Linked DNA regions of Homo sapiens. The protein of the gene in region 2 purifies or fractionates together with the protein of the main gene of each other region. This does not show direct contact. Each region holds a gene or a part of one and is shown on either strand. Other genes may lie near its edges. The genes, in order: RNF220, ZC4H2 and AGGF1.

The links.
Region 1: the proteins of ZC4H2 (region 2) and RNF220 purify together in Homo sapiens (affinity purification with mass spectrometry; 3 studies listed by BioGRID and IntAct, with this or other methods). This does not show direct contact.
Region 3: the proteins of ZC4H2 (region 2) and AGGF1 purify together in Homo sapiens (affinity purification with mass spectrometry; 3 studies listed by BioGRID and IntAct, with this or other methods). This does not show direct contact.

The regions. Positions count from the first base shown.
Region 1 is NC_000001.11:44,637,016-44,647,680, forward strand, and holds part of RNF220 (E3 ubiquitin-protein ligase RNF220), read left to right. Parts: intron 1-7,682; coding exon 7,683-7,779; intron 7,780-7,979; coding exon 7,980-8,066; intron 8,067-8,205; coding exon 8,206-8,261; intron 8,262-8,344; exon of another isoform or gene 8,345-8,394; coding exon 8,395-8,473; exon of another isoform or gene 8,474-10,665. UniProt on the Homo sapiens protein: E3 ubiquitin-protein ligase that promotes the ubiquitination and proteasomal degradation of SIN3B. Independently of its E3 ligase activity, acts as a CTNNB1 stabilizer through USP7-mediated deubiquitination of CTNNB1 promoting Wnt signaling.
Region 2 is NC_000023.11:64,972,147-64,983,009, forward strand, and holds the start of ZC4H2 (zinc finger C4H2 domain-containing protein), read right to left. Parts: upstream 4,305-10,863; 5' UTR 4,232-4,304; coding exon 4,179-4,231; intron 1-4,178. UniProt on the Homo sapiens protein: Plays a role in interneurons differentiation. Involved in neuronal development and in neuromuscular junction formation.
Region 3 is NC_000005.10:77,038,047-77,048,711, forward strand, and holds part of AGGF1 (angiogenic factor with G patch and FHA domains 1), read left to right. Parts: intron 1-1,484; coding exon 1,485-1,673; intron 1,674-8,300; coding exon 8,301-8,631; intron 8,632-10,114; coding exon 10,115-10,226; intron 10,227-10,665. UniProt on the Homo sapiens protein: Promotes angiogenesis and the proliferation of endothelial cells. Able to bind to endothelial cells and promote cell proliferation, suggesting that it may act in an autocrine fashion.

The DNA.
Region 1 (10,665 bases), on a different chromosome or scaffold from region 2:
TACTGCAGCTTGTGGTCATTAAGTGAGCCAATCTGCTTCCCGTCTGCCTCTCTCTCTGGGCAACACCTTTGGGAATACTGCTGTGTATGGTCCCTGGGGAATCTCACAGCAGCTGGGAAGAAGTTCTCTGCCTTCGTGGGGCCGTGCTACCTGGGCAGATGCTGAGGAGTGGTCTCTGCAGGGCCGTCCAGTGCAGACTGGTTCCACGAAGGGGCTAAGAGCCCAGATGAGACATTATGCCTCTGGGCGTCTCTCACATTACCCAGGTGTTTGGGGGCAAGCCAAAACATAAATCAGGAAGGTTAGTCAGACCAAACAGTCTCCCTGAGCCGGAGCTGGAGAGTGTTAGTTTGCCATTTCACTCATCCCGTACTGGAGCCTTCGAGTATCTGAGGCCCTAGAAGAGTGAGCAGCAGGGCTGACGACTGTCCCATGAGTTGGACACATGGGTGTCCGATGGCAGCCACACAGGGTCAGTTTCAACGTGCTGCTCTGGTTAGCTCTGTTGGCAGCTGCAACTGCTCACATCCTCCATTGCTGTGGCACCTTCTTAGGTTCCTTGGCACAGACCTGGACCTGATGGCTTCTGGGCACCAGACAGGGCTTATGGAGGATAAAGCTGCAAAGGGCCTGCTGATTTGACAAGAGTATTTCCCCTGTGCCGGGATGCACTTGCACAGCAGTGTGAGGGGCTCTTAGGCCCCGGGCGGGTATCCGTTTTCCCTGAGTGTTTACACTGTGAGGTTGTTCCTTTCAAGAATTCCTGAGGGGAGTTCAAAGGGGGCTTTTCTTTGAGCGATTTGGAGAGCGAGAATGAGAGTGAGACTTGAAGAGGGAACAGGGGCCGGAGGTGCCTTTATCTGCAGAGAATTGCTCCAGCTTTCCTGATAGAAGCTGCTGCCGCCTCTTAAACAGCTTAGTGCAGTCAAAAGACAGGCAGACTTGAAAGGCTGTTTTACAGCGAGATCAGCGGGGGCCACGAGGCAGAGAGCGGGGCGCAGTGGAGCGGAGGAGGCTGAGGCTCCTCAGTGGGGGGGCTATCAAAGGGAGGCCCTGGCTGATCCCTACTGCCTCTGCCCCCAAAACCCTGTCTGCAAAAGCTGGCCATCTGTCAGCCTACCCTCCCTGGCCAGGACTGATAGGCCCTAACTCTTGGGGGGTTGGGTGTGGCCTCGCCAGGCGGGCTGGTGTCAGTGCAGCGCATTGATCGCCCGCCGGGCGGGCCGGGCTGCAAGCCGGGCAGCGCGTGCTTAATGTGATTGAAAGGCAGTTAAAATGGCGGTGACCTTTTCAGGAGGAATTAGATTGCCTGCCAAGACCGGTTAGAGGGAGTGATAACGCCAGCTGAAGAAGCTGCCCAGCAGACTTCAGAGAGAAGGAGGCAGAGGCAGGATGAGCAGGCGAGTGGCGAGGCCCATTTAAACTGCGCTGTGCGTGCTGACAGAACAGAGATTGCTGTCGTTGTTAGATATGAAAGAAGTGAAGAATTGCAGATAAGTTCCTGTATCCGATCACCCCCATCCCTCCTCCCAGAGTAGGGCCTCTTCTTCATCCTCAGCAAAGCTTCCCACCAGGCCCCTGGAGGTTGGTCTGATGGATCAGATCGGTTACCTCAAATGTAATCTGCTGTGGGAAGCAGTGAACGGGCAAGAGTTTCGGTGGAGACACTTGGCTGAGGGCAACAGGCCTTAGAGATGGGGACCTGTGGTTACTGAGGAGGAGCTCCAGATATCTCAGGCCTGGGAGTACTCGGATTGATATTTTAGGACAAAATAAAGAAGCAGACAGAGCAGGTGAGCACTGAGGTAGGTCCCACTGGAAACAGATTTTTGAAAAGACTAAAGGAAATAGGTATTACTTCAAGAAAGTAAGTTGGAAGGAATTTTTGCTGCCTAGGAGGCACTCTGACCTTCCCAATTCTAGAAGAAATACTTAAGCTGTGTGTCTAAGTTGTTGATTGTCCTTTCAGAACCATAGATTTTCTAACCTGCTACTGCTCTTTACATAAAGGACAGCACACAGAGCCTAGTGCGCCACCAACATTCCACTAAAAGAGATCCGCAGTTAGGGAGAAAAGATGTTTTTCTTGGGTACCATGCCAAACCTGGGCAGAGCAAGGGGCTTCTAGGCTAGAGAAGCAGACTACAGGGGAACCTAACTATACAGCCCTTAAGACAAGCCTGCTTCCACCTGTAGTCTAAGGAGGTGTGTGACTAAGGAGCCATGCCTTTCCTCTCCTGTCCTCCATCCAGCTCCTGGATCCTGGAGAAGAGACCTATAGTGGTGAACCATGGTCCCTCCTGTGTGTTGGTTGCCAGTGAGAGTTCACCCAACTGCATTGGGGAGCCCAGAGCTCCTCACATCTGGAAGGGACATGCTGGAAAGAGGACATGGGAATGATTGGTTTCAAATAAGGTGGCAATGATGTGGGCACAAGAGTGGTGAGATGGAGAAATTTCCCAGGAAGCTTCACAGGAAATGGAAGCCTGCAGCTGTATCTTTAAGCCCTGGCGGTGACTGCGTTGCTAAAATCCAGCATGAAGCCCCTCTGAACCAAACAGGAGGAGTGGGTAGGGAAAAGAAGGGTGTTAAGACAGTCAGCAGTGCAGGGTCTTTGTCCTGCTCAGGTCCTGGCCTGAAGCGTTTCTTATCTTTCATGAGTTCCTTACATTTAAGCCGGTTCCAAGTAGCTGGATGAGAAGTCATGAAGCAAACAGGCAGAGCAGCTGTGGCACAAATCTTTTCTCTTCTTTTCTTTTCTTTTCCTTTTTATTTATTTATTTTTGAGACAGAGTCTCACTTTTTCACCCAGGCTGGAGGCTAGAGTGCAGTGGCACGATTTCGGCTCACTGCAACCTCCACCTCCTGGGTTCGAGAGATTCTCCTGCCTCAGCCTCCCGAGTAGCTGGGATTACAGGCATGTGCCACTACAACCAGCTAATTTTTGTATTTTTAGTAGAGACGGGGTTTCACCATGTTGGCCAGGCTGGTCTTGAACTCCTGACCTCAGGTGATCCACCCACCTCGGCCTCCCAAAGTGCTGGGATTACAGGTATGAGCCACCACACCCGGCCTGGCACAAATCTTTTATCTGGCTATTTCTTGATAAAACTTCAGCGCCAGAAGTATGGGGCAAGGGGGTAAGAGGTGTTGTAAGCCCCAGGGCATGGGCACATAGGCCTTGCCCTAGCTGCTGCCTTCTTTGGTGTGCTAGTTCTCAAAAGAAGGGAGCCCCAGGTGCTAAAAATGTCCCCCAGTGCAGCTCTGCTGTTGGTCCAGCCAGTGACAGGTGTTGGAACAGCACACTGCTGGAGGCGGTCTTGGAGTGGAGAGGGTTGGGCTGCTGCCTTGTGACTCCCTACCATCTTTAGTTCTCTCTGTCGCCTGTTGGGAGGGGTGAGGAGAGGTGGCAAGGAGCAAGGCACCTTCTGTCCCCCGTGGCAACTGATGGGATTTAATCGCCTTTTGGAACACAATTGTTAAGCTAGGACAGAGGGAGTGCAGGCAGAAGGAGCAAGTATCAATGGTTTTAAACGGCGTCTGTCTCTCTGCGTCTCTCCTGACGTGAGGCAGTGAAACGCGTTATCGAGGAGGCCCGGAAAGTGGCTAAGTGCGTTTGACACACGCCAACTCCCTGCCTCCACACTGGATAATTGCATTGTCAACTGTTCAGCGAGGTGGCAGGTGACACTGCAGGCCGATTGATTGTCCCGCATCGCAGCTCCCCAGACTGTCAGCTCCCCAATCGATGGCGTTTACACAAGACACCGTAACTGCATCTGTAACTAATTCCAGTGTAAAACTCGCCGGAAGCTGCTGCCCCTGCCCTCCGTGTTGGAGAGCACAGGCCCCTGGAGGGCCCCGAGACGTTTCCTTTCTCCCTGGGCTCTGGTTTTGTTGGGAGCAGCAGGTGAGGAAATCGATGCCTCCTTTTTTGTGGTTTCAGGTTCCAGGACGATACTGCCCCCAGTAAACGGGCATCTCCAGTTTCTCAATCGATCATCTGATCAATTGATTAAATTAACACTGATTTTTTTTTTCTCCCTTCTCAATAACCCAGGAAGAAATGAGTTTATGGGAGAAGGGTCGTTTTTATAAAACGTAGACCTGTGTTTCATTTCTGCACTTAACTCTCTCCCTCTTTGTTGCTCAGTTTTCACTGTGAGGAGAAGGATATTTTTTTTTGCACTACCCACCCCGCCAGGAATGGACAACTCTGGCACCACCCTGCTGGGTATCATTGACCATCAGGCTTAGGTTGCCTATGGGTGGGGGCTCAGGCCTTTATGCCACTTTAAGCTGGGGCAGAACTGTAGCAAGAGGCCCTCCCTGGTGACTGAAGGGTACTCTGGGCCATCTTGGAGGTCCTGGGGGCTGAGTTCCTTCCCTAGATAGCAGTAGTAGGAGTGGCAGCTTGCCTGTTATCGCTGGAGCTACATGGAAGAGGAGCCAGAGACTTGGAAAGGAGCTGTCTGTGCCATCTTGCCTCTGAGTACTGGCTTGGGATATTCCAGCAGCTGAGAACATCAAACGACTGTGGAGCCTTCCTCTCCAAGCGGGAGGGGGGGCAAGCTGGCGGGGGCGCTGTCTGCATAAAACGGCTTTATGGCCGTTTCTTTTTATTATGATTCTGCCAGAAGTCAGCAAGTGACATTTCATTAAGAAAATAAAGTTTAATGTGCTGGGAAAGAGGTTGGAGCAGGCTGGGGCAGCACAAGAGTGAAATTGGCAGCAGCAGCCTGTTCTGAACACCTGTGGGGGTAGGGAGAGGTTCCCAACATCTGTCTCAGCTGGAGGATGGGGTCAGGGTCAGAGTGAATGGCTCAGACCAGAGGCAGAGGCCTTTTCTTTGGCAAACAAAGTGTGTCGTGCTGTCCATCCTGCCTCACTGGCCAGCGGAACAGAAAGCTGCTGCCCGGCTGGGAGCTGGGATCTGATAAGGAAAGTTGTATCCTGAGAGATTTCTCTAGGCCACCAGCTAACTAGGACCTAATAGAGCAGTGTCGCCAGTGTTTAGCCAGTACTGCTGGGGTGTGCTGTGTGGCACCAGCCATCAGCCTGGCCAGCTCTGCTGGGTGATGCTGAGATCACAACAGTGAGTCAAACTTGGGACCCTTGCAGCTTCCACTCTGGTGAGGGACAGTGACAATAGGTGGTAATAAATATGATTTTGGAGTTACACAGGATTCTGGGTGGACACCAGGGAAGGGACACCTGTGTATAAGAACGTGGGAAGCCCCATCTGCCACGCAGAGCACCATGAGGATAGGGATCAGATCTTGAAGCTCTCTATTCTCAACATGGAGCCAAACAGAGGATGAGCCCAATAAAGGTTGAAAGAATGGCATTGAGGTGAGAGTTCTTTCCTTTAGCAGGGATTTAGAGAGCAGCTGCTCTGTGTGGGCACTGTGAGTTAATGGTAGGAGGCATGGTTGGGCTGAGTCAGACTTGCCAAAGGAGCAGGCATGTATATTGTAGACCAGGAGGGAGAAGGTTCTAGGCAGAGAGCAGGAGGTGCGGAGGCATGGGGGCATGAGAAAGCACAGGATTTGGGAGACCACAGTAGCTCTGTTTAATGGAGTATGAGTCCTGGGCCAGGCATGGTGGGCAGTAAGACTACAGAGAAAAGGACTTCAGGCTACAGGGCTGCTTTCTGCGTTGAGAAGCTGGGGCTTTTCCTGGCAGCTTTGGGGTACCCTGTTTTCTCTGCTTTGCCATGGAGCCATATTGGGCTCACATGTGGTGCCAGGGTTCTCTGCTTTCCACTTATAAGGCAGGGCTAGGCAGGGCCAGGCCGAGCAGAAGATGTGAGGCCAGCTGCTGAGCTGCGTGTACTTGGGGAAGGGGGGTTGGCAGGACTTGGGTGCCGCAAGCTGTAAGTGAACCTGATAGCTACATTCTGATTGATGGTGGAGTTTGTCTCCCAAACTGTCAGAGGGTTTATGGAGGTGCCACTCACCCACAAGGCGGGAATTGCTTGTCAGGACACCTGGCCGTGTACAGGAGACAGAGCTGTAACTTGGTGTTTTCTCAGCTTAATGGCCCTGCTGCTGACCTGACCTGCCTGCTGCCTCAAGTGTGTCAGTGCCTCAGGGTAGAGGGCAAATGAGGACTGTCAGGGAGAGGTGGATTGCAGGCTGTGCCTGGCATCTTTCCTTCCCGATGCTGCTTGCCTTTGGGATTGGTGGTGTCTTTGTGAGACCAGAGACTGGTGGGGTAGAAGGGAGAAGGATCAAGACTCAGTGTTTTTCAGGGCTTGAAAAATGGAGAACATTCCAGATGGAGTGAATAGCATGAGCAGGGGTCTTAAGAGCAGCATATACAGGCTATGTTTGTGGTTTGGTGAGCAGCCTGTGTGTGCACATGCTTGGGGTTTACAGAGTGAATTAGTAGAGAGCAAGAGTAAAGACATAAATGGACCCAGATCTTCATGGATCTGGCTGAGGAGCCTGGGCTTGGTTGTGCATGCAGTGGGGAGCCATCAATGGTTTTGGAGCAGGAGGAAAGGTGGTCAGAACTCAGTGGTAAGCAGAATGAAGGAACAGATAAGAGGCCTGAGGACTCCCTACAAGACATACCCTAATGAGAGTATAAGGACCTGAGAGGAAAGAGTGGACAAGCAGAAATGTCTGAAATCATCAGGCAGATACTAAGCTGCTTCCTCACTTCTTTAAGGATTTCCTTGCTGATCCCAGTAGCCACAGAGTCTCACATTCTTTTGTCCCTGGCAGGGCTGTGCTGGCTAGTGAGGTGTGGTCTGAGACCCACTAGGAGGAAGTGGGGAGCTGGGGGGAACAGCTCTATAGCACTTGACCCTAGGCTATCAGGAAGGGTGGTCCTGGATGTCAGAGAGATCGCCTGGCAGGTGAGCAGGCCTGGTGTAGCCCCAGCAGCTCGCCCCTCCCTCTGAGCTGAGAGTCCGTCTGTGGCTGTGCCAGATGCACCTCAGGGGTCAGCCACTTGCGTGGCCCATGGCCTGGCCTCCGCTCAGCCTGGTTGCCTTCATGGACTGCTTTGAGAAGTAGGTGTGCATGCCTGTCCTCCCTCGTCTGTCCCTTCTTAATCCCTTTATAACTGCACTTGTCCAGGAATCTGGGCTGAGTGAGGTGGAGATGAATAATTAATGTCAGGCGCTTCAGACACCAAATATTTGAACAGCTGCCTGGTGTTTTTGCTGGCAAGGACCTAGCGGCCAAAATCAGGATGTTGGCCGGGGGTCCCACTCTGTGGCTCTGATTGGCCTTAGCCAGCCTGTTCTCTCCTCTGATGGACTTGTCAGGCTGGATAATGGGGCATAGGGGAGGCCCCACTCTTTTCCTGTGAAATTCCTAGACCTGAATTTTTCTGTCCTCTTACTGTTCTTCCTAGACCTGGAAGATAGGTGGACAGCAGGCCTGGGCTGAGTGTCCCCGAGGACGTGACATAATATATGAATGGGCTAGTTTATGAGCAGAGACCACTTGGAGCAGCATGCAGTAGCAGAGAAAGATGAGGTTTGCAGAGTGAAGGGCCTGAAATGTCAGGGTCAGGGGCACTGAAGTATCTGGCTCTATACATCCCAGGCCCAGGTTTCCCTCTGGGCCTTATCAGGTCCAAAGCCTAACCCCTACCTGGAGGCAACAGGAGGGGCACCCTTGGCCTCGTCTTGTCCCCAGGCCCTCCTCACACCCTGCTTCCCACAGGCTCTGGCTTCATCATGTGCAGCGGCAAAGAGAACCCGGACAGTGATGCTGACTTGGATGTGGATGGGGATGACACTCTGGAGTATGGGAAGCCACAGTATCCTTGGAGCACTATGGGGGCTGGTGGGGCTGATAGGGCAGGCACAGGGAATAAGAAAAGTAGCTCTTCTAGTATTCACCTGCACCACCCCCCGGGCCAGAGTCTCAGCTTTGGCCAGGAGGGCCATGCTCTCCTGAGGATTCAACCCTCATAGCCTGCTGCAAACTAGGATCCATTGTCCTTGACCACCATGCCAGATACACAGAGGCTGATGTCATCCCCTGCACAGGCGAGGAGCCTGGTGAAGCCAAGGAGAGAGAGGCACTTCGGGGCGCAGTCCTAAAGCAAGTGTGGGCACAGGCTTGGGCGGGTGGAGCAGAGAAACAGGAAGCCCTGAGGCAGGGGTTAACGCAGTACTGACCCTCAGGGCTGTCCTGCCCGCCTTCAGGCCTCACTTTGTTTTTCCTCCCTCCTTTCCTCCAGTGGCGGCCCTCCCAGCACGCGCATCACACCTGAGTTCTCTAAATGGGCCAGTGATGGTAAGTCCTGCCCCAGGTTAGGAGTAATGGGGGAGAGGGGGTATCCCTAGATGGTGGTGACTGACTCAAGCCCAACCCCTCACCTGTGCTGCCCAGTCTGGCCGGAGTGTGAGTTGCCCCTCTGTCCCAGCAGAGATGCCATCCACCAGCAATGGTGAAAGCAGCAAGCAGGAGGCCATGCAGAAGACCTGCAAGAACAGCGACATCGAGAAGTAAGTGTTTGGCCAGGAGAGAGCCCTGGGACCACAGTTCAGTGGGAGGAGGGGCCCTTTGCTAGCAGGAAGGCCTGCTGCCAGGGCTTCTGGCCCTCCCAAGTGCAGCTCAGTGCTGCTGCCCTGGGCACACGGCCGGCAGTGGAGCCCAGCTGGTGCTAAGCGTGACTCTGTGAATTGATCACTGGGCCACGGCCCCAGAAGCCTTGGCGGTGGGAGGAGCAGTCCACCCGCCTGCCTGCCTGCCTGCCCGCCTGCTGCGGCGGCCTTCGCCCGGGGAATGTGATGTATGGCCGCCCAGCCCAGCCGGCACACTTGATTCATCTCCAGTTTCTGTTTCTTAATCGGGAGCTAAATTGGTTTCATTTTTCTTGTCCCGGGTGGCACTCGCAGTGGATTTTAGGCAGGAACATTGGGTATCATCACTTCTGGTAGGAATTTTTGGCCTGGGTTCTCTGGCAGAGGAAAAGGGATCCATTAGCACTTTGCCCAGGGCTGAGCAACCCCTGGCCTGGATCCCTGGGAACCACAAAGATTTGGTATCAGCTGGGCATCTTCCTGCCTTCCCAGAAGCCCAAGGAAGGCCAGTTCTGGCCTCAGGAGATGGCATTGTCCAGTCTAGGCTGCCTGGTGCTGCTGCCATTGGTCATTGCTTAACTCCAGTACCCACCCCACCTTCTGACTGCAGGCTAGGTTGCCTGGGGTTAAAAGGCAGCCTCTTCATTCCAGGGCCAGTGTTCCATCTTTGCCTCCTGCCAGGAGAGTGGATTGGAGGCCGGTGCAGGGCCGGGTCGGTGGCCCAGGGTCACCTCCCATTTGTTTCCCTCCATTTTGTGTTGTCATAAATTCATTCCAGCCCGTTGTGGTTGATCAGTTTATCTCGGCCGGGGCCGCGAGTGCTGCTGGCATGATGTATGGGCCGCGGCGCAGGGCCCGGCTGCCCATGAATCACCGCAGCTGCTCCGTGTCAGCGCCGGAGCGGGCCGTATGGGTTCTGCGCAACCAGCTTGTGGTGGGGAGGAATGACGTATGGATGTTTATTTAATAATTCTCTCCTACTCCAGCTGAGCAGGGCGGGCGGGGTTGTAAGGGGCACCCACCCTCGTCTGGAGGGGCTGCTCATAAATCAGAAAGACAAGATCATTAATCAGGGATGGCGCCCGAGGGGGAGGTGGGGGCAGAGCCAGTGGCTTCCATGAAGGTACAACCCACCCAAGGCTGGGGGGAGCCAGGATTTCTGTCCCACCTGTGTGAGCACAGGCACCCGTAGGCAGGGATCTCTATGATGAGGTGGAGACTGGCTCAGTCATGTGCAGAGCTCTCCACTGGGTCTGGATCTGCTGAGACTGGGGCCCATCAGTCCCCGTGATTTCTCTATTTCTTGCCCTAGATCTGTTTTACTACTCAGGGAAAAGGAATGGTAGGATGCCATGGCTCCTCCAGGAATCTCCCCACCCCATGCCCTGGAGGGACTCAGGAATAGCTCACAGCCAGCCTGGACCAGGGGTTGGAGGCTTGGGTATTTCGCCAGAGCCAAGATTGGAGGGCAGGTGTGTGCTGAGCACATCCAGGATAGGTAGGCTCTGGAGTTGGCTATTGGCCTTCAGTGGGGCCTTGTAGCTCTTGGAGATGGCATGGGAAATGGCTTCATTCTCTCCTGGCCTCATCCTTCTTTGCCATTCCAGCTCTAGTTCTCTGATTTGGGGTTTGGGAGTTAGTTCTCCATTCTGGTGTAGGCTGCCCCCAGCTGCAGGCCTTAGTTTCCCCATCTTTGACATAACTATATAGGACTAGGCAAATTCTCAGCTTAGTCCTTGGAGTGGAAGGGAGCACAGCTACAAATCCTTGTCTCCTTATCAGGAATTTACCTGTAATCCAGATGGGGATGGCACATATGGCATTGTGCAAAATGCCAGGGAAGGAGCCTGCTGTTCGGAGGCTTGTGAGGAGGGAAGGGATGGTAAAGGCTTCCAGAGCCAGAGAGCTAAATGGAAGCCCCCAGGGAATCAGCCAGTACCAGGAGGAAAGAGTCAGAGCCTTTCTTGGCATCCCTGGAAAGAGGCAAGGCAGAGGGAATCATGGACCCTAGGGTGATGGATTTAAGTGTCCCTGATACAAGGACACAGCCACTAAGGAGTCACGCTCTGTGTTGCTGCTAGCTCCCCAAAGGAAAAAGGCCAGAGATTGAAGTT
Region 2 (10,863 bases):
ATGGGCAAAATAGATTAGTGTAGGATTTGGAGGCTGAGGTTGGGAACATAATGTGGGAGTGTGATTGGGATTGGGAGGAAAGACAGGGGTAGGCGTGTGTTCAGAGTTAGAAGCAGAAAATGGTCTGTGGTGGGAGAATCTGCTTCTGATGTTTTTCCCACTGCAAATTCTGCCATTGGTGTGAGTGCTGAGTATGAATGCATATATTTCTGGGCTCGTGTCTTGATGTGTGTAAGGCTCTTAGCTTGACTTCAATAGGTCATTAGATGATGCTGCTGTCATCATTCCTGCTTCTGTCCAGCAAACATTATTTCTTTAACAGAAATATGCTGCTATGCTTATACTTCAGGAGATTTAGGATTATAGCAGTTGAAGAACTGTGAATAATGGTTAATCAGATAATCAGCATTTGTAAGGGCAGTTAATAACATTGAAATGTGCATGCCATGTGAATAGGAGGATATATTATTTTTTCTTTCCTAGCTGTGTAACCATGGGAAAGTTGCCTAATCTGTCTGATCCTCAATGTCCTTATCCGTAAAGTGGGGGTAATAATTCCTATCCCAGATTTCCTTTGGGAAGACTAAAGAGTAAATGAGCCAGGAGCTTTTAAATTAAAAGGTGCTTGACAAATGTTAGTTCCTTTCTTCAGTTTCTTTGACCCTTTGCTCCTTCCTTATTTCTATCTCTCATACATGTTTATCTGTCCATATGTGAACATCAAGTATATATTTATAGTACTTTCTCCATTTTAAATTCTTAAACCAAGTGGCTTAACCTTTGTATATTACTGTAAAATTGTCAAAAGCAGTTTAATTTAAGTCACTTTTGGAACACACACATTTGGAATTGTTATGTCTTCTTGGTAGATTGACTATTTTTCATTATGTAATATCCATCTCTAGGAATTTTCTTTGCTCTGAAGTCTGTTTTATTTGATATTAAGATGGCCATTCCTGCTTTATTTTGATTAATGTTTGCAAGGTATTTAGACTATTTGTTGTGAACATAATTATTGATACATGAAGGCTAAGTCTGCCTTTTTATTTTTTTTTCTGTTCATTCTCCGTAATTTTAGTTTCTCCATTTTCTTTGCCCTGCCTGCCTGTGGGTGACTGGAGCATTTTTTAAAAATTCATATTGATTTATTTATAATGTTTTGAGTACATTTCTTTGTATAGCATTTTCAGTGTTTTCTCTCAGTAATATATTATGTATACATAATTTATTTAATAGTCTTCTGACATTACCACTTTACATGCTTGAATGAAGTGTAGAAGCATGTCCTCCCCTTTACATCTCTTTACATTTACAATCCCCTTTACATTCCCCAGTTTACAATATAAATGTGTTAAATATTTCCTCTACATATGCTGAGACCACACTAGATAACAGTATAAATTTAGCTTCAATTATCAAAATACAAGAAATTTCAAGAGGAAAGAGAAAGTCTACTGCATTAACCATGCTTTTGCTTACTGTTTATTGTTTCTTTTCTGTTTTCAGAGCTTACTATCATCTTTTTTTAGGGTATATCTAAATTCCTTAGTATTTCTTCATTGGAGAATGTCTTGATTACCCATTCAATACTGAAGGATATTATTATTGGACATAGATTTATGGGTTGTCACTTCTTTTCCTTCAGCACTTACAAAATGCTAGGGCATCGTCAGTTTCTGATGATAAATCTGTCATTCTAATTTTTTTTTTCCTTTGTAGCTTTTGTTTCTCTTCAGCTGTTTTGAAGAAGTTTCCTTTTTCTTTCATTTTCAGAAGGTTGATTACAATGTGTTTTGGAGTGTGTTTCTTTGTGTCAATTATGTTGGTGTTTGCTCCTCTTCTTGAATCTAAATGTTTATGTCTTTTGCACAATTTGGGAAGATTTTAGTCATTATTTTTCCCAATACTTTTCCAATCCTGCCCTCTTTCTCCTGGGAATTTGTTGGCATAAATGTTAAAGCTTTTGTTATAGTGCCACAGTGATTTCTATTGTTTTATATTTGTAAGCTATTTTTTCCCTCTCTCTTCTCCACCTTACTGTTGAACCTATCCATTGAGTTTTTTGGGGTTTTTATGTTACTGTATTTTTCAGTTCTAAAAATGTCACTTTGTTCTTCTTTATGTTTTATATTTCTTTGTTGAGACTTTCTATTCATTTTCTGAGATTTTCTACATTATCATTTGTTTCAAGTGTATTGTAACTGCTCACTGAAATGTTTTTAGGACAGGTGCTTTAAGATCCTTATCAGATAATTCTAACATGGGTGTTATCTCAGTATTGGCATCTGTTTATTTTCTCTTCTCATTCAAGTGGATATCTTAGTATGGAAAGTGATTTTTGATTAAAAGTTGGATACTCTGGATCTTATTTAAATCTTTTGTTTTAGCAGTCCTCTACCACTCTCTTGGATGGAAGAGGGACAGTAGAAGTCCAGTTTCTCCACTGTCTCTTGACATCCAGTTTGGAGAAGGGCTGTTTGTTACTGCTGTTTAGAGGTGAAAGTTTGGCCTTCTCTCTGGGCCTATGCTGATTCCATCCTAGCTGGTTGAGGTAGAAACTCCTAGTTACCACTGGTAAGGGTAGAAGTCATGGTTCTCCATATGGTCTTCACTGGGAGAGGTCTATTTTCACTGGGGATTAAAGTCCTTGCTCACAACTGGTCCTTCTCTGGGCATGGGGTGGTGGTTCCTTTGAAGCTTGGTGAGAGTGGAAGTCTAGGCTCTCCATTTGCAAGCCTAAGCTTCTGACTAGCTGCATCGTTATGACAGCTGGCATTCTACTGTACTAAGGTGTCTCACTTTCTAGCTAGCTTCTGATGCTTTTGCCAAAAAAAAAAAAAAAAAAAAAAAAAATTGCAACATATTCCCTTCTCCTTTCCAGACTTTACCTGGGACATAGTGGGAAAAGGAATACCTTTGCAGGCAGACCAACAAAATGTGGCAATTTCAAGCTGCGTGGCTGTGGGAAAATCACTCAAATTCTCTGGGCCTCTATTTCCCCAGCTGTAAAGGAGGAGTAGGAAGCTCACAGGACTCTTGCTGAATGAGCAAAAGTAGGTCAAAGGGCCTGGCACACAGGGGCGGGAAGGGACTCAATAAATGATAGTTCCCTTCCTTTACCTCTCCTGTAGAAAGAGAGATGCAACCCCTCAAGAAGAAGAAGAAACCAAGGTGCTTTACCTACCACCACTAATCACCATGTGTAGGTCTCATCCAGCACTCTAAGGGTTAAATCTCATGATCAAAGTCTTATTTCTTAAAGAAACACACTTGACATCTTCCACCTTGGGTTCTCAGAAAACACTCCAGGGAGAGAGCTTGACCCAGGCCACTCTCAGAGTGAGAGCAAAAGCCAAAGCAGGGGCTCACGCTGAGAAGGCGAGGTGAAGAAAGACCTTGTGCCAGCCCACACAGCCCGCCTGGCGCTATTGTGTTCTGAGCAAGGACAATATCATCGCTTTGCCAAAAGCTGCTCCAGGAGCAACCGTGTAGCGGACTCCACTTCGGCAACTCCCACTTTGCCAGCCCGCCTGTCACCTCCAGCTCCTCAGAGCAGCTGTCGCGATCCCACCATCAGCGCAGCGACCGCGTCCCCAGTCCCCATTGCTCCCATCCCCCTCCCAAGCGCGGGATAGGAAGGAAGAAAGTGGCGAGTGAGTGAAAGGAAAACGAGCGCGCGCCATTCTCCCAGCTCCGCCCGCTGAGATTCCTCTGCAACCCCCAGTTGGCAGCCCCTGGCAGCAGCCACCAGCCCCGATGCGCTAGACTTGGCTCTCAAAAGCCTTTCCCGAACTCCAGGTTCTGAAGTTGAACAAGAGACTGGAAAAAAATCCCGACTCCTAAAGAGCAAGGAGCCAAAGACACCTTGGGGCACACAAGTACTTTTAAAAAACGTGTCCATGAATGCAGAGCCCTGACCTCCACCTCGAGAAGAATAAAACTGTCTTGGTACCAAACCCGTGTTTCTTCATCTTTGCTTTCTCAGCCACATCTGGCAAGAGGTCTCTCTCTCTCTCAACTCTCCTCAGCGCCCCTCCCATCCTCACCTCTCCGGCAAGTCTGTGGTGAATGGGCCCCTTTCCAGCTCCTCTAGACAAACAGCCCAACAATAGATAATTAGCCCTCTCCCGCAACGAAGGGTTGGAGAGGGGCGGGGAGGGGGACAACGTGCCACTTACCTGATCTCTTTAATGCTTTCCAATTTGCACATGATTTCTTGCTCATCTGCCATACTTTTCACTGTCAATTTCACGTCCCGAGAGATGTACAAATACACCAGCCAAGGGATACAATAGACACAATGTAGCCACCTCCTCCGGGCTTGGGGCTATGAGCCTGTGCGGTAGGGGCTTGGAGAGGCCTGGGAGCTGTAGTCCGGAGCTTCAGGGCCAGCCAGGAAGCCCGGGGGCCTGTAGGACTACAACTCCCAGAAGGCCAAGCGAGACATGCCTGTTTCCCTTCCTGCAGCCGCACTTTAAATCAATTTGTTATAGATAATTATGTCAAAGGTTGTGAAGAGTGCAAAGGAATGGGGATATTCGTCTGGCCCGTGTGTGGGAAAATGGAGAAAAAAATATTCCTGAAGGCAATTGGAGAGATGAGAGACATACCCATTCGCTCCCTTCGGGGGCCCTCGCACCTACCCACCCGCAAAAGATTAGCGGTAGTCGCTAATTACGCCTTGGGGATGGAAAGAAACCCTGCAGGGAAAGTAGCTTTGGAGACGTTGAATGTGCTAGCTGCTGCCTGGGGACCAGTAACTTTGGCATTCAATTTAGGGTGGGGCGGGGGTGGGGAAGAGGAGGATGGGAGGAGGGAGATGCTGCAAAAGCTGGGGGAAAGGAGAGTGGGTAAGTACTTCCAGCTACTTACCCATTCAACAAACAATTACTTAAGCTCGGACTTTGCCAGTCAATGGAAGAAGTACTGTAGGAGTCACCGGGCAAGGCAGATAAATAAAAGCAAATCCTTGCCTTTGAGGAACAGAAGAGGCTGAAAATTTACCTATTAATTACAGTACAGTGTGGTGTCAAAATACAGGAATAGATAAGGTGTAACCTGTGCAGAGAAGATGTAAATAGGTCTCAAGAGTGACTAAGAATTTGTCAGACCATAGAGGAGAATGGGCTCTCCAGGTGAGGATACAATAGAGAGAGAAAGGAAAGGATGAGTGGTTCAGAGTGCCTGAAATATAGGTTTCTTATATGAGGTGTAGAGGTGGAAAAAAGAAATGGGAGATGTAGTATTTAGAAAAGGCAGGTAGGAACCAGACTATGAAATACGTTAAATGTCAGACTAAAGGGTTTGGACTTAATCCTGTAGGCAGACATTTATCTAATAAACTTTTAAATTAATTAATTTATTTATTTATGAGACAGTCTCACTCTGTCGCCCAAGCTGGCGTGTAATGGCACAGATCTCGGCCCACTGCAACCTCCTTCTCCTGGGTTCAAGCAATTCTACTGCCTCAGCCTCCCGAGTAACTGGGATTACAGGCGCCCACCCACCATGCCCGGCTAATTTTTGTATTTCTTAGTAGAGATGGAGTTTCATCATGTTGGCCAGACTGGTCTTGAACTCCTGAGCTCAAGCAATCCACCCGCCTCAGCCTCCCAAAAGTGCTGGGATTACAGGCATGAGCCACTGCGCCTGGCCCTAATAAACATTTTTTAAGTGCTTATTCTGCACCAAGTAATGTTTAATTATTTTATGTTTCAAAGCACGGTAGTGATAAGGATGGAGGAATATTTTAGAGAGGGACTCTGGAAGCAAAGTGGAGAATGATTAGAGGACATGAGACCAGGTAAGAGGCAGTTACTCAGCGTGCACAAACAGGCCTAGAGAGCTGGACGTTGGGCAAAAGGAAGATGGTGACTCACTCCCAACTAAAAGTGAGTCAGAACTCTCTCTGAGTTTGTGCTTTCTTTTATTGAGCTTCAGTTTCCTCATCTGAAAAATGTACCTAGTGAGCCCACCTCAGAGGCTTGTTGGGAGGCCTCTATGAGATCATTCCCATGATCATGCTGAATACAGGGCTTGGTATTTTGTAGGAGCTTGAGAAGTTTGTGGAACATGAATCTCATGTCATTCTGGATGTCCACAGTGATTTTAAGCATTCTCCAGGGAAGAAATTAAAGCCCTTCTCTTCTTTGGATCCAAGATGTAATAACTTTCTTAACCATAAAATTCTCCCTGGTGTCTACATTTTCCTATTGTCTTGAAGGTTGCTATCTTGTACAGCCACTAGTTGGTATTTAAAGAACATTGAGTTGGTTAGTCACAAAGCCTGTGGATCCAGAGCCAAGAACTGGCCCCAGCTCTGTCCCGTAAGGGGAGGAGGTAAGCAACAAGCCTGCGTTAAGTGCCTGACATGTACTGGCTACTGTGCTGAGTCTGATATGTACAATCTATCATTTCATCCTCACAACCACTATGAAGGGGGCAAGTAGATTCATCCCCTTTTAGAAGGAAGAAAACTGACTCAGATAGGGAAAGTTGTTTTGCCATGTCCACACAATAAGTTATAAAGCTAGAGCCTGTGCCCAGTTTGGACCAAGTTACTTGCAGATTAATGAAGAGAGTGTGTCTGGAAAAAAAAAATATATATATATAGCAACCAAAACTACAATGGGGTCCCGAGTGTATGTATCTATGTCAAACATAAAGTGGTTTATAATGCATTAATGCTGGCTTGGGGAGAAGCGGAGGGTTTGTATGGGATGTGTGGGAAGCAATTTATGAACAGCCTTTGAGATTTTAAATTTAATGTCTCTCTCTTTTTCCATTGTCCCCTTCACCTTAAGAATCCTTACCACTGACTATGTTCACACATCTGGTAAAAGTCTGGATGTGGGTATGTATCTGTTTCAATTAAATATGTTAATGGGTTTAGAGTCTGATTTGGTAATAATTTGGGAACTATCTTGTCTTTCAAGCCTCACCGAAATCCTAGTTTACAGATGAGGAAACTGAGACCAAGAGAGGCAAAGGACTTGTCTGACATCACCCTACTTGGCTGAAACAGAACCAAGACTCCTGACTCAAGGGCCTGTGCTCTTCCTATGGCCCCATGCGGCCTGTATCAAGCTGCTGCTGCTACCATGGGGCCTGAATGCCTCTGTTACTTTTCAGCCAGAAGGTGCACTCCAATATAGGGTGTCTGCAGAGGGCCAAGCATGTCCCATGCTTCCAACTATGGACATTTAAGGGAGATAGCAGTTAATCTAAGAGAAGAGGCCATGGGAAAACCTGGAGCTTGGAAGAAGGTTTGTGCTATTTGTAACAATTAAAATGTCCAAATACAGAAAGAGTAATGTGCCTCTTAGCTTCTGCTGGTTTGCTTTTGGCTCCTTGACCTCCTTGAGAACAGATGTCTCACCTGTTCCTTGCTGAATTTTAAGAATCCAGGCTAGCAGTGAGAGGAAGGAAAATGTTGTAGAGAAACAGTGGGGAAGAGAAGGAAACTATAGCCTTCTGCCCCTTCTTCTGAAGCAGCACTTAAAACAGTATCTGCAAGCCAAGGTGGTGGCTTTTCCATAGTAAGTGTTCAGTAGCTCTCAATTGATCAGAAGTTTGCAATGGCTGAAACAATATTTAAGATATGGGCTAGCAGTGAGTTCTAATGCATGATTTTATTAGAAGAACTGATTGATTTGAGGGGTTAGAAATAAAAAAAAATCTTAGTTTTATCAGGGCCAACATTATTCTTATTGCTAAGGCAATAAGGCAGGGTATGTTGGGGTTAATACCATTAAAATGCAAGAAATTAGCAAAAGGGAAGCCAGTCAGTCTCGATTATACTTTCAGGGAATAGATCAAGACTTTAAAAATGGAGGCCAGAATATTGAATTCACAGATATTTCTTTGTACTTCAACAGTGAACTAAACTAAAAGGAGGCAGAGATGCAACAACAGTCTTGGTTCCAAATTGCCTTTCAAAAAGTAGTGCAAATTACTTATTAAATTTCTCATTATATTTCTTAATCAGCATTTCTAAGAGAAAAGTGAGCCAAAAGTTTTCAGCCCAAAAATGTTTATTGTGCACCTATGATATGTCAGGAACCATCGAGGTTTCAGTGAAGATTTCATAGCAGATACGACAGACATGGGCCCTGCCCTTACCAAGCTTACCATTTAGTGAGAGAGACCAGCTATTACAAAGATCATGCATACATATATAGTTATACCTAGCAATCAGGGCTTGAAATAAGTCTAGGTTCTGTGAGCAAGACACACACACATAAGGGGAGAACCAATTTAGTCCTGAGAAGTGGGCAAGGAGTCAGGGAAAAGCTTCCTGAACAAAACTAGGCAGGATGAGAGAGGAAGGGAGGGAAACAGCAGGAGGTATCGAGGATTAATTCATGCAAACAGCCAACAAATATTTACTGAACACTTACTACATGCCAGGCACTCTCCTAGGTTCCAGGGATATATAGTGCTTTGCATGTATTAAGTTAGTTTAATCCTTGCAAAAACTTCACAGGAAGTATATATTATTATCATCCTTATTTTACAGAAGAGGAAGTTGAGGCACAGAGAAGTTAAGTAACTTGCCCAGAGTAACACAGCTAGTAAGTGGCAGAACTGAGATTCAAATTTAGAGAGTCTGCCTCCAGAAGCCATGCTCTCACCTACTATGTTCTATTAGTTACCCAAGATCCCAGTTCTTAGGAAGTTTACATTCTAGTAGGAGGAGCCAGACAATAATGACAGAAAAGAAAAAAAAATAAACATAATAATATTTGGGGGAGATAAGCCCATAAGACACTAATTGAGGATAATAGGACAGAATGATGGCAGGAGGGGGAATGTTTTAGTTAGGATGGTCAGGGAAGGCTCCTGTTCAGAGATGACATTGTAGTGGAGACATAAGGAGTTGGGCATACAATGATCTGGAGGAAGAGTGCTCCAGGCAGAACGAATAGCCGGTGCAATGGTCCTGAGTCAGAAAATGCTTAGCCTATGAAAAAAAAAAGTAGGTAGGGCTCTGGCTGATTAAGGGGAGCAGAAGTAGACTGAGGAGACAGTTTATGTCATTGAACTGTTATTCTAAAAACAGGGTCTTGTAAACCATGGTGATGAGTCTGGGTTTTATTCTAATTACAATAGGCAAACATTGAGGGTTTTAAGCAGGGGAGCAACATGATCTAGTTTTTAAACATCACTGACTGCTGTGAGAACAGATTTTATTGGGGCAAAAGTGGAAGTAGGAAAACCAGTGGGAAAACTATTACAGTTGTCCAGGAAAGAAATTATGGTGGCTTGAATTACAGTAGTAATAGTAGATATGAAGAAAAATGGGCTGATTGGGAACATATTATTGGGCACAGAACTGATATGATTAGCTCATGGATAGGATGGAGAGGTACGGAGGGCGAGATAAGGCATCTAAAATGACTCCTGGATTTTTGGCTTCAGTAATAAGGTCAGTGCCATTCACTGAAACAGGAAAGACTGGAAGAGAACCGTACGATGTTAGAGCTAGAAGGCACTCACATGTGATATATGGAAAAACTGAAGAACAGAAATGGTAATTGACCTCCCTAGGTTAGGGAGTTAGGAGCTGAGATAGGTAATCTCATTCTTCACACTCTCTCAGAAAATTTTCATGTTCTCCATCACTTCAGCCCTTCAGCTGGGGTGTTGAGGGGTGTGTTTGAAGCCTTAACTTTGAAGATTCCCCTAGGAGATGGGACTTGTGGGTGATTAGCCAGAATTTGTATCTGCTTACATAGACAGTGCTAGGTATTCTCAGGCAATGTTTCAGCTGAAATTCTTGCTGTTTTTGATGGCTTTATGTCATTGAAATTTCACTCCTCTATTCTTTCTCACCTACCCAATGTCACTGACCTAGATCCCCCAAATGCAAATTTCAGGGAACAAAGATCTGGCAGTGGAAGTAGGGGAGTCCCATTTTTCCCCTCTGCAAGTCCGAAAAACCCTAGTGTAAAAAATCCTATTATAAAAGCAGTCTAGTGTACATCTACTGCATTTTCTTAGTAAACTTTCATCCACACCCTCCCCTCTTCTTCAATTCTCACCTCTTTGAGAGTGACCAAAACTGACTGTCTAGCTCCAATGACCTTCCGTTTCTAACAGCCTCCTTTATATCACCAGAACTAAGTATGGGATTGAGTTTCCAAAAGGGCTGAGTCTTACCAGGTTCCCTGCACATCTTTCCCAGGCTGGGGTACTTTAGAACTACTCATAGGGCCCTTGTCCCCCTCACAGAGCTGTTTAATGATTAAATGAAAAGAGATAAGTTATGAGAAAGCACCTAGCACATTGGTTGAATTATAATAGGCATTGATTACAGGTCAATATCCCTCATCCTTCTCACCACTTGCCCTAATTCTTAGAGTCATTTGGAGAACCCAAATTTGGGGATAATTCAGTGAATAGAAACAGGAGAGAAGCATGAAAAAACTATAAATAAGTTGTCTTGATTTAGGCTTGAGAAGACAATGACAGAGGCTTCATTTAGAAATCTCAAAATGGACAGGGCAGCATTTGATGTGAAGGTTGTAGCCATTATTTCCCCTAAGTTTGGGGCAAAATGGCTTCATTTATAGTAGAAGCGTTAGAGGGATGATAACTTATAAAGCCACAATGACAAATAAGCAACCACAAGGAAAAGATGGACAGATTCAACTGTATAAAAATGTACAATGAAAAATGACACTCATAAAATAAAAATGAAACAGACTGGGAAAGTAAAAATAACACATAAATCTTAGTAGTACCCCACCCAGGGGTTGGTTGCATTGTAAACAATAGACCAAACCTTATGCCTATGAATGAAACATCTGGTATCTGCAAGTAAACAGATTGGGAGAGGAGTGGGAAGGCAGATGTCCTCTC
Region 3 (10,665 bases), on a different chromosome or scaffold from region 2:
GTTGACGTTCATCATTCCTGTTACTGGAACTATTGTTATCTAGAGAACATAAGATAATACTAAATATCTCAATTAACATAAGAGGTGTCATTAGTTTGTCAATCTGCATATGGTAAACTGTAAGTCCTTTGTAAAGAGAGGGTTTTCTTTCATGGGGGTTGCTAATTGACAATGCTAATTAATAACCAGGAAATTAATGTTTAAACACTTATCCAAAGGGAGTAGTTATTTAGTTTCTAGGAAAACAATAGTTTCAAGTAGACATTAGTCTTTGTCAATCTTCTGCCTGTCTTTCTGTATCTTTTCTCTTGACATCAGTTGTTTTGTAAATGGTTAGTACGTTCTGCAGGTTATATTTCTGAGTAAATTAGGAACTTCATTGTGTTGCCATTTTCATTGTGCTAATATTTTAATAAATTTTTTTTATATTTTGAAAATGTCTATATTTTGGACTGATAAACAGATTTAAAAGGTTTGAATTATAAAAGTTCCATTATTACTAGAAATAAAGATTGGAAAGCCTCCACTCAGTTTCTTAGTTAAGAGAAAGATGGTGAGAAATCTAAATATTTTTTGTAAGAGATCTGCAAAATGCATGGATTAAAGACAATAAATTGCAAGTGTCAATAGTTAGAAAAATAAATTATTCTTTTTCAGGAAGTTTTAGTTGCTCAATCTCAGTACATTAAAGATGTTTCCGGGTCTGGTCTGCATGGATTTAGGATGTAAATAAAATATAGACTGTTCAATTAAATTTGGTTTTAGAGTACTGGCCAGTATATCATAAATATAGGTGATTACCTAATTTTATCTTTCTGGTTTTTAAATCTGTAATTTGCCAAATTCATTTATGCATGGTTGCTTGTAAGTCTTATTTACTATAGAACTGATTAATTAGTGGAGACAGTTTATTGATTGCATTTTATAGAATGTTATTTTTTGGTATGCATGAACTTTATTTTCAAAATTTTCTTCTCTAATTTTAAGTTATGAACATCAAAAGACAAATCTTTGTTTTATGACATTGAGAGGAGGGTTTAGGGGTTTATACTGCCACACCATTATTGTGCAGTCATTAAGAATCAGGAGTCTAGAATTGCGCTCATATGGTCAGCTTTTTCTTATGCTTGCTTTAGTTTTCATGCCTTTAAAAGTATTATCAATTTTTTTAATGTATTAAGTGGAACCATATGAAATTGCTGTTTCTTATAAGTTAAAAGTGGTCAAGTATTGACAATTTTATATGATTAAATTTAATATTTAGATTTACTTGTTTCTCACACTAGGAAAATTAGATCAGTTATTGAATGGTAAAGTATTTTGGAAGATTAAAGCATTTTTTATTGTTATCTTTAATTCATTGTCTTCTGAAAATACTATAGTTGTTCAAAGAAATATTTACCACATTTGAATGTATTTGGCATTTTCGTTAAGTTTATTTTATCTTACATGAATAGAATTTATTTTTTTCTTGACTTTCAAAGGAAAATCAACTCTATTATGATCCTTCCACTGGAATTTATTACTATTGTGATGTGGAAAGTGGTCGTTATCAGTTTCATTCTCGAGTAGATTTGCAACCTTATCCGACTTCTAGCACAAAACAAAGTAAAGATAAAAAATTGAAGAAGAAAAGAAAAGATCCAGATTCTTCTGCAACAAATGAGGAAAAGGTAATGTCTTTACAATTTTAAAAATTGACATAATGGTGATAACATGATAATTAAGACAAAATTTTTTATGAAACTGACAATCATTCAATAACTCTGCATTTCAAACATACCCATTAAGATAACCTAGGAAAGTTTAGATGGAGCAAACATGGACTTTTTCATAAACTCTGTCACTAGAAATAGAAAGCATTTCTTAAAATTTGAAGGAGATAGATTAAGGTCAGATAAAATATCTCGTATATAGTTTGGAAGAAGAATTCAGATCCTCAGTTGATAAGTTGATGTCAATGCACAGTTCATAATAAAAGATAAACACAGTTTATAGGTAGACATAGATACAGGTTCAACTTTCTTAGTTATGTGGAGCAATTTTTTACTTACTAGGACAATTTTTTTTTTTTTTTTTGAGACAGAGTTTCACTCTTGTTGCCCGGGCTGGAATGCAATGGCGTGATCTCAGCTCACCGCAACCTCCGCCTCCCAGGTTCAAGTGATTCTCCTGCCTCAGCCTCCCGAGTAGCTGGGATTACAGGCATGCACCAACACGTCTGGCTAATTTTTTTGTAATCTTAGTAGAGACGGGGCTTCTCCATGTGGTCAGGCTCGTCTCGAACTCCTGACCTCAGCTGATCCTCCTGCCTCTGCCTCCCAAAGTGCTGAGATTACAGGCATGAGCCACCGCACCCGGCCAGGAAAATATTAAAAAAAAAAAAAAAATCCATTGCTGACAACTGTGGAGTGAGATAACATATTTATTAGGATTAATAGTTTAAATGGCCTGCAAGACAATGGTTAAGAAAGCGATAGTTACATTTAATTTAAAAAAGTATTATGTAGGCTTTCAGATGGTACTTGTAAAGACTAAGGGGAACCCCAAAAATGCTTATGATGATGCAATGTTAAATTGAAAGAAGGAAAATATAAAAAGTTAACAGTGTTCTTTATTTCTACTCTCTAAACAGGTAAGTTTGGTGGTTTATAGGTTATAAAGGAGGCTTGTTTGTTTTATTGATATTTTATGAACTGTGGCAACTATTTGATATCTTACTCTTGAAATTTTATCTCATGGTTTCCTGTCCTGTCCTTTCCTGTCCTATCTCTGTCCTGTCTTGTCCTTCTGTCCTGTCCTGTTCTGTCCTTCTGTCCTGTCCTGTTCTTTTTTGAGACAGGGTCTTGCTCTGTCACCCAGGTTGAGTGCAGTGGTGCCATCATGGCTCACTGCATCCTCGACCTCCTGAGCTCAAGTGATCTGCCTACCTCAGCCTCCCAAAGTGCTGGGATTATAGGCGTGAGCCACTGTGCCAGCCAGTTTTTCTTTTCTTAACCAAAGAAAAATTACTTGATACTAAATTGTAAAGTTCACATAAGGAATTAGGATTCTGTTAGATTTTTTCTGTTCTCCTATTTGATTTGCTTCTGTTCTATTTTTTTGTGAACAATACTTAGGAATAGAAGAGTATGTGACTAAAATACTAAAAATCAGTTTTCTGTTTGCTTTCAAGATCTCTGTTTTAATGGCTTGTGCTTGTTACTAGTGGTTTGATTGTTTGAAAGGCTAGGTTGTAGGTCGGGTGTGATGGCTTATGCCTGTAATCCCAGCAATTTGGGAGGCCGAGGCAGGCGGGTTGCCTGAGGTCAGGAGTTCAAGACCAGCCTGGCCAACATGGTGAATCCCCGTCTCTACTAAAAATACAAAAATTAGCCAGGTGTGGTGGCAGATGCCTGTAATCCCAGCTGCTTGGGAGGCTGAGGCAGGAGAATCGCTTGAACCTGGGAGGCGGAGGTTGCAGTGAGCCAGGATCGCACCACCACACTGCAGCCTGGGCAACAGAGCGAGACTCCATCTCAAAAAAAAAAAAAAAAAAAAGAAGAAGGCTAGGTTGTGAAAGCACCTCTCCCTAACAATAGAAGAAGAATATGTAGGGCTCCTCAAATGGCCTTGCCTGAAAAACTAGAGAATAGACATGGAAAGCATTCTGTGATATTTTGGTCCAGCCTCGCTCCCATAACTACTCATCTTTGCCATTCTTCTTTGAAAATGTGCGAATTCCAAGACAAGAACTTTTTTTATTTATTTATTTATTTATTTATTTATTTTTAATTTATTTTTTTATTGATAATTCTTGGGTGTTTCTCACAGAGGGGGATTTGGCAGGGTCATGGGACAATAGTGGAGGGAAGGTCAGCAGATAAACAAGTGAACAAAGGTCTCTGGTTTTCCTAGGCAGAGGACCCTGCGGCCTTCCGCAGTGTTTGTGTCCCTGGGTACTTGAGATTAGGGAGTGGTGATGACTCTTAACGAGCATGCTGCCTTCAAGCATCTGTTTAACAAAGCACATCTTGCACCACCCTTAATCCTTTTAACCCTGAGTGGACACAGCACATGTTTCAGAGAGCACAGGGTTGGGGGTAAGGTCACAGATCAACAGGATCCCAAGGCAGAGGAATTTTTCTTAGTGCAGAACAAAATGAAGTCTCCCATGTCTACTTCTTTCTACACAGACACGGCAACCATCCGATTTCTCAATCTTTTCCCCACCTTTCCCGCCTTTCTATTCCACAAAGCCGCCATTGTCATCCTGGCCCGTTCTCAATGAGCTGTTGGGCACACCTCCCAGACGGGGTGGTGGCCGGGCAGAGGGGCTCCTCACTTCCCAGTAGGGGCGGCCGGGCAGAGGCGCCCCTCACCTCCCGGACAGGGCGGCTGGCTGGGCGGGGGGGCTGACCCCCCCCACCTCCCTCCCGGACGGGGCGGCTGGCCGGGCGGGGGGCTGACCCCCCCCACCTCCCTCCCGGACGGGGCGGCTGGCCGGGCAGAGGCGCCCCTCACCTCCCGGACGGGGCGGCTGGCCGGGCGGGGGGGCTGACCCCCCCCCACCTCCCTCCCGGACGTGGCGGCTGGCCGGGCGGGGGGCTGACCCCCCCACCTCCATCCCGGACGGGGCGGCTGGCTGGGCAGAGGGGCTCCTCACTTCCCAGTAGGGGCGGCCGGGCAGAGGCGCCCCTCACCTCCCGGACGGGGCGGCTGGCCGGGCAGGGGGGCTGACCCCCCCCACCTCCCTCCCGGACGGGGCGGCTGGCCGGGCGGGGGCTGACCCCCCCACCTCCCTCCCGGGCGGGGCGGCTGGCCGGGCGGGGGGCCGACACCCCCACCTCCCTCCCGGGCGGGGCGGCTGGCCGGGCGGGGGGCCGACACCCCCACCTCCCTCCCGGGCGGGGCGGCTGGCCGGGCGGGGGGCCGACCCCCCCACCTCCCTCCCGGACGGGGCGGCTGGCCGGGCGGGGGGCCGACCCCCCCACCTCCCTCCCGGACGGGGCGGCTGGCCGGGCAGAGGGGCTCCTCACTTCCCAGTAGGGGCGGCCGGGCAGAGGCGCCCCTCACCTCCCAGACGGGGCGGCTGGCCGGGCGGAGGGCTGACCCCCCCACCTCCCTCCCGGACAGGGCGGCTGGCCGGGCGGGGGGCTGACCCCCCCACCTCCCTCCCGGACGGGGCGGCTGGCTGGGCAGAGGGGCTCCTCACTTCCCAGTAGGGGCGGCCGGGCAGAGGCGCCCCTCACCTCCCAGACGGGGCGGCTGGCCGGGCGGAGGGCTGACCCCCCCACCTCCCTCCCGGACAGGGCGGCTGGCCGGGCGGGGGTCTGACCCCCCCACCTCCCTCCCGGACGGGGCGGCTGGCCGGGCAGAGGGGCTCCTCACTTCCCAGTAGGGGCGGCCGGGCAGAGGCGCCCCTCACCTCCCAGACGGGGCGGTTGGCCGGGCGGAGGGCTGACCCCCCCACCTCCCTCCCGGACGGGGCGGCTGGCCGGGCGGGGGGCTGACCCCCCCACCTCCCTCCCGGACGGCACGGCTGGCCAGGCGGGGGGCTGACCCCCCCCCCCCCGGATGGCACGGCTGGCCGGGCGGGGGGGCTGACCCCCCACCTCCCTCCCGGATGGGGCGGCTGGCCGGGCGGGGGGCTGATCCCCCCCACCTCCCTCCCGGACGGGGTGGCTGCCGGGCGGAGACGCTCCTCACTTCCCAGATGGGGTGGCTGCCGGGCGGAGAGGCTCCTCACTTCTCAGAGTGGGCAGCTGCCGGGCGGAGGGGCTCCTCACTTCTCAGACGGGGTGGTTGCCAGGCAGAGGGTCTCCTCACTTCTCAGACGGGGCGGCCGGGCAGAGACGCTCGTCACCTCCCAGACGGGGTCTCGGCCGGGCAGAGGCGCTCCTCACATCCCAGATGGGGCGGCGGGGCAGAGGCGCTCCCCACATCTCAGACAATGGGCGGCCGGGCAGAGACGCTCCTCACTTCCTAGATGTGATGGCGGCTGGGAAGAGACGCTCCTCACTTCCTAGATGGGATGGCGGCCGGGCGGAGACGCTCCTCACTTTCCAGACTGGGCAGCCAGGCAGAGGGGCTCCTCACATCCCAGACGATGGGCGGCCAGGCAGAGACACTCCTCACTTCCCAGACAGGGTGGCGGCCGGGCAGAGGCTGCAATCTCGGCACTTTGGGAGGCCAGGGCAGGCGGCTGGGAGGTGTAGGTTGTAGTGAGCCGAGATCACGCCACTGCACTCCAGCCTGGGCACCATTGAGCACTCGACAAGAACTTTTAAGAAAAATCCTGTTGGAATTTTGAGAATTTCCTGAGGATTCTAAAAGGTACCTGTGAGGCCAAGAGAGTATCTTCATCTGTTTTCTTTATTTTTAAAGATATTTTTGAGCCTCACTTTTTGTAGGTGAAGGTTATGTGGAAGGAAGACAGTAGGGGAGATAGGAGTAAATAATTTGAAATATACATATGTGCCTCAGTGCCCATAAATAAGCCCTCCTTTCTTTTCACTTAATGACTATCTAATGTTCTGTACTGGCAAATAGCTTTCCCTGCATATGTTGTTCAGTAAGTAATAAATATACAAGATTGGAAACTGCTTTTTTAAGAGTATATACAGATAGGGAACTTTTTTGCTATAATTTTATAATGTAAAAGCTCCTCATGGTTTTTCAGCTCCTTGCCCTTGTTCTTGTTCTGGGTGAATTTGTATTGCTAGAAGTGTGTATAATTTATCACACTGTGAATGTTTAGCCAGTCTCCAAGCTGAACTTACGCTGTTATCAAAGATAGGTATGTGAGGTGGATGGATCATGAGGTCAAGAGATCGAGACCAGTCTGGCCAACATGGTGAAACCCCATCTCTACTAAAAATAAAAAAATTACCTGGGTATGGTGGTGCGCATGCCTGTAGTCCCAGCTACTCGGGAGGCTGAGGCAGTAGAATCTCTTGAACCTGGGAGGTGGAGGTTGGAGCGAGCCGAGATCGCGCCACTGCACTCCAGCCTGGGCGACAGAGCGAGACTCCGTCTCAAAAAAAAAAAAAAAGAAAGAAAGGTGTGTGAGATGCTCTCATATTTTATAAAATAACAGAAGAGCATATGAATTCGCCTCATGTTGCTCTGAGGTAGAAAGAAAAGTGAGAGTGCGTTAGAAACCAAGGGAAAAAAATGGAAAATAATTATTTACTTTTTCTAAGGCTGAAATGATAGATTTGACCATTGTATAACACGGTGACTATTGTTAATAACAATGTGTTGTATTATTGCAAACTGCTGAGAGCAAATTTTAAGTTTCTTACCACAGAAAAATAAGTATTTGAGGTAATGTACATGTTAATTAGCTCAATTTAACCACTGTACATTGTGTACGTATTTCAAAACTTCATGTTGTACATGATAAAAATACATCATTTTTGTTAATTAAAAAATGTTCATTTATTATAAGGCATATCAACTATAAATGTACAATAAATAATAAAAGACTTATGCCAGGCAAGTTAAAATTTTGGAATAAGATAGTCACAGTTAATTTGTACTTTAAACTTTTATGTATTATCAAGCTGAATCTGAAGTACTAAATTTTAGCAAAACTACAATTTTGCTACATATTGAGTACATTTGGATCTTTAAATTCATGTCATAAGTAAAGCTAATTCTGTATTTTATTTGTGTTGACTAGCTAATTGATTACCAGTTTAAAAAGAAAATTTAGAATAGGTATTCTTTAGGCCTGCACTATCCAGTAAGGTAGCCAGCAGCTCCATGTGGCTGTTGAGCACTTGAAGTTTTGCTAATCCAAACTCAAATGTGCTGTTAAGTGTAAAATACACTCTGGATGTTGCAGACTATGTAAACTATCTCATTAATAATTTTACTTTTTAAATGTGGCTACTAGAAAATGTAAAAGTACAAATATGGTTTGTGTTACATTTTTATTGGACACCATTGGTCTAGGCTATCCCATAGTCCAGGCAGTATGTGATGAGGGCCTGAACTAGGAATGTTAAGACATTGAGAATAGAGAGACAGATTTGGATATATTTTGAGAAAAGTCTGTAGCACTTCGTAATTTTATATATGGTTAAGGGGATCTCAGAGATAACTATAGGATTTTTAATTTGGATAATAAGAAGATGGTAATATCATTAACCAAGAAAGGAAATGTGAGAAGGAGAGGGGGAACAGATTGTAACCATTGTTATTTTACTGACACATATCTTCACGAATTCGTTGAAACTTGATGTAATGTTATAAGATAGTGATGTTTAAGAGTATTCTCCCCTGTTCCCTCGTATCTACCCACCCTTCTCCAGGATTTGAACTCAGAGGATCAAAAAGCCTTCAGTGTTGAACATACAAGCTGCAATGAGGAAGAAAATTTCGCAAATATGAAAAAGAAGGCCAAAATAGGCATTCATCACAAAAATAGTCCCCCCAAAGTCACTGTTCCAACTAGTGGAAATACTATAGAGTCTCCTCTTCATGAAAACATCTCTAATTCAACATCATTTAAAGATGAGAAAATCATGGAGACTGATAGTGAACCAGAGGAAGGTGAAATTACAGACTCTCAGACTGAGGATAGTTATGACGAAGCCATTACCAGTGAAGGCAATGTAACTGCAGAAGATAGTGAGGATGAAGGTGAGTAAATAATCATTATTTAAGTAAATAGCCCAGTCTGGTAACTATAAAAGAGCAAAACCATTAAAAATGTTAGTGAGTTGTAGTATATCTGCCAGAAAGTAAACATTATTTTAATGATGTTATTGAAAATGTTGTGGGTTGCCACTTGGTTATTCTTAGAGAGTAGGATGTGAATAAATGACTAATACTTAGACCTTCAGAAGGTTTCATTGTATTGAATGGCATAGTCAGTAGAATACAAAGCCAGGTTACCTGGATTCTAATCTTAAAATATAGATTAAGGCTGTTTTAGTGGGTTAGATATTTGTAGTCTACTTTTGTAACTGAGAGAGAAAAACAAGTTGTCTTTAAAAAGTATACATTATGAATTCAGCTACATGGATATTATGGTAAATCTAATTTTTTTTTACTTGAATATATAAAGACATACTTTTAAAACACAGGATTTCATATTACAGTTGGCCTTCTGTATCCATGGGTTCTACTTTAGTGGATTCAAGCAACCTCAGATCAAAAATATTCAGGGAAAAAAATGGATAGCTACATCTGTACTGAACATGTACACACTTTTTTTCTTGTTATTGTCCCCTAAATATGGTGTACCTATTTATATAGCATTTACATTGTATTAGGTGTAAGTAATCTAGAGATGATTTAAGTTATACAGAAGGATGCACATAAGTTATATGCAAATACGATACAATTTATATAAGGACTTGAACATCCATAGATTTTGGCATATGAGGAGGGATCTTGGAACTAATCCCCCACAGATACCGAGGGCCAACTGTGTAGTATATGAGCTTACTTTGTTCTTTGGTTCTCAATGGCATTTCTCTTGCATTTTTTTTGAGACAGAGCCTTGCTCTATTGCCCAGGCTGGAGTGCAGTGGCGCAGTCTCGGCTTACTGTAACCTCCGCCTCCTGGGTTCAAGTGATTCTCTTGCCTCAGCCTCCCAAGTTGCTGGGACTACAGGCGCATGTCACCACGCACACCCAGCTAATTTTTGTATTTTTAGTAGAGACAGGGTTTGACCATGTTGGCCAGGGTGGTCTTGAACTCCTGACCTCAGGTGATCTGCCTGCGTCGGCCCCCCAAAGTGCTGGGATTATAGGTGTGGACCACTGTGCCTGGCCTTTTTTTTTTTTTTTTTAATGGACTCAATTTTTATAACTTAAAATAATATAAAAATATTTGGGATTTTTTCAGATTCTGAAACCTTAAAAAAGAAAGAGTTGATTATTTGATAACTGTGATAGATGCTAAATATGCAGCAACCTTTATGTGGATCACTTTAATAACAGTGTTAAGCCTTACCCATTGCTGCGTATTATACAGCAGAATTTAAGAAGTTTGTTTTAGTCAGAATTAAGATTTTTGACCAACACATTTTTATTTTATGGATGCCTCCTAGTTATCCCTATGAAGTTCTTTTTCATAGTAGTTAAATTAATATTTACTCACTTCTTTCCTTGGCAGATGAAGACAAAATTTGGCCCCCATGTATTAGAGTAATTGTCATTAGATCACCTGTGTTGCAGATAGGATCACTCTTTATCATTACTGCTGTAAACCCTGCTACAATTGGAAGGTAAAATGGTTAATATTATTATATCATTCTTTCAGTTATTTCAGAAAGGCTTTATTAAGAGCATGTATTTTTGTTTGTTTGTTTGTTTTTTGTTTTTGAGACAGAGTTGTGCTCTGTTGTCCAGGCTGGAGTGCAGTGGCACGATCTCGGCTCATTGCAACCTCCGCCTCCTGGGTTCAAGCAGTTCTCCTGCCTCAGCCTCCTGAGTAGCTGGGATTACAGGCGTGCACCACCACGCCCAGCTGATTTTTGTGTTTTTAGTAGAGACGGGGGTTTCACCATGTTGGCCAGACTGGTCTCGAACTCCTCAAGTGATCCACCCACCTCAGGCTCCCAAAGTGCTAGGATTACAGGCACATAAGCTGCCACGCCTGGCCATTATGTTAAGCATTATTCTATGTGCTGTGGATACAAAGAGGACTAATGCAAAATGTCTACC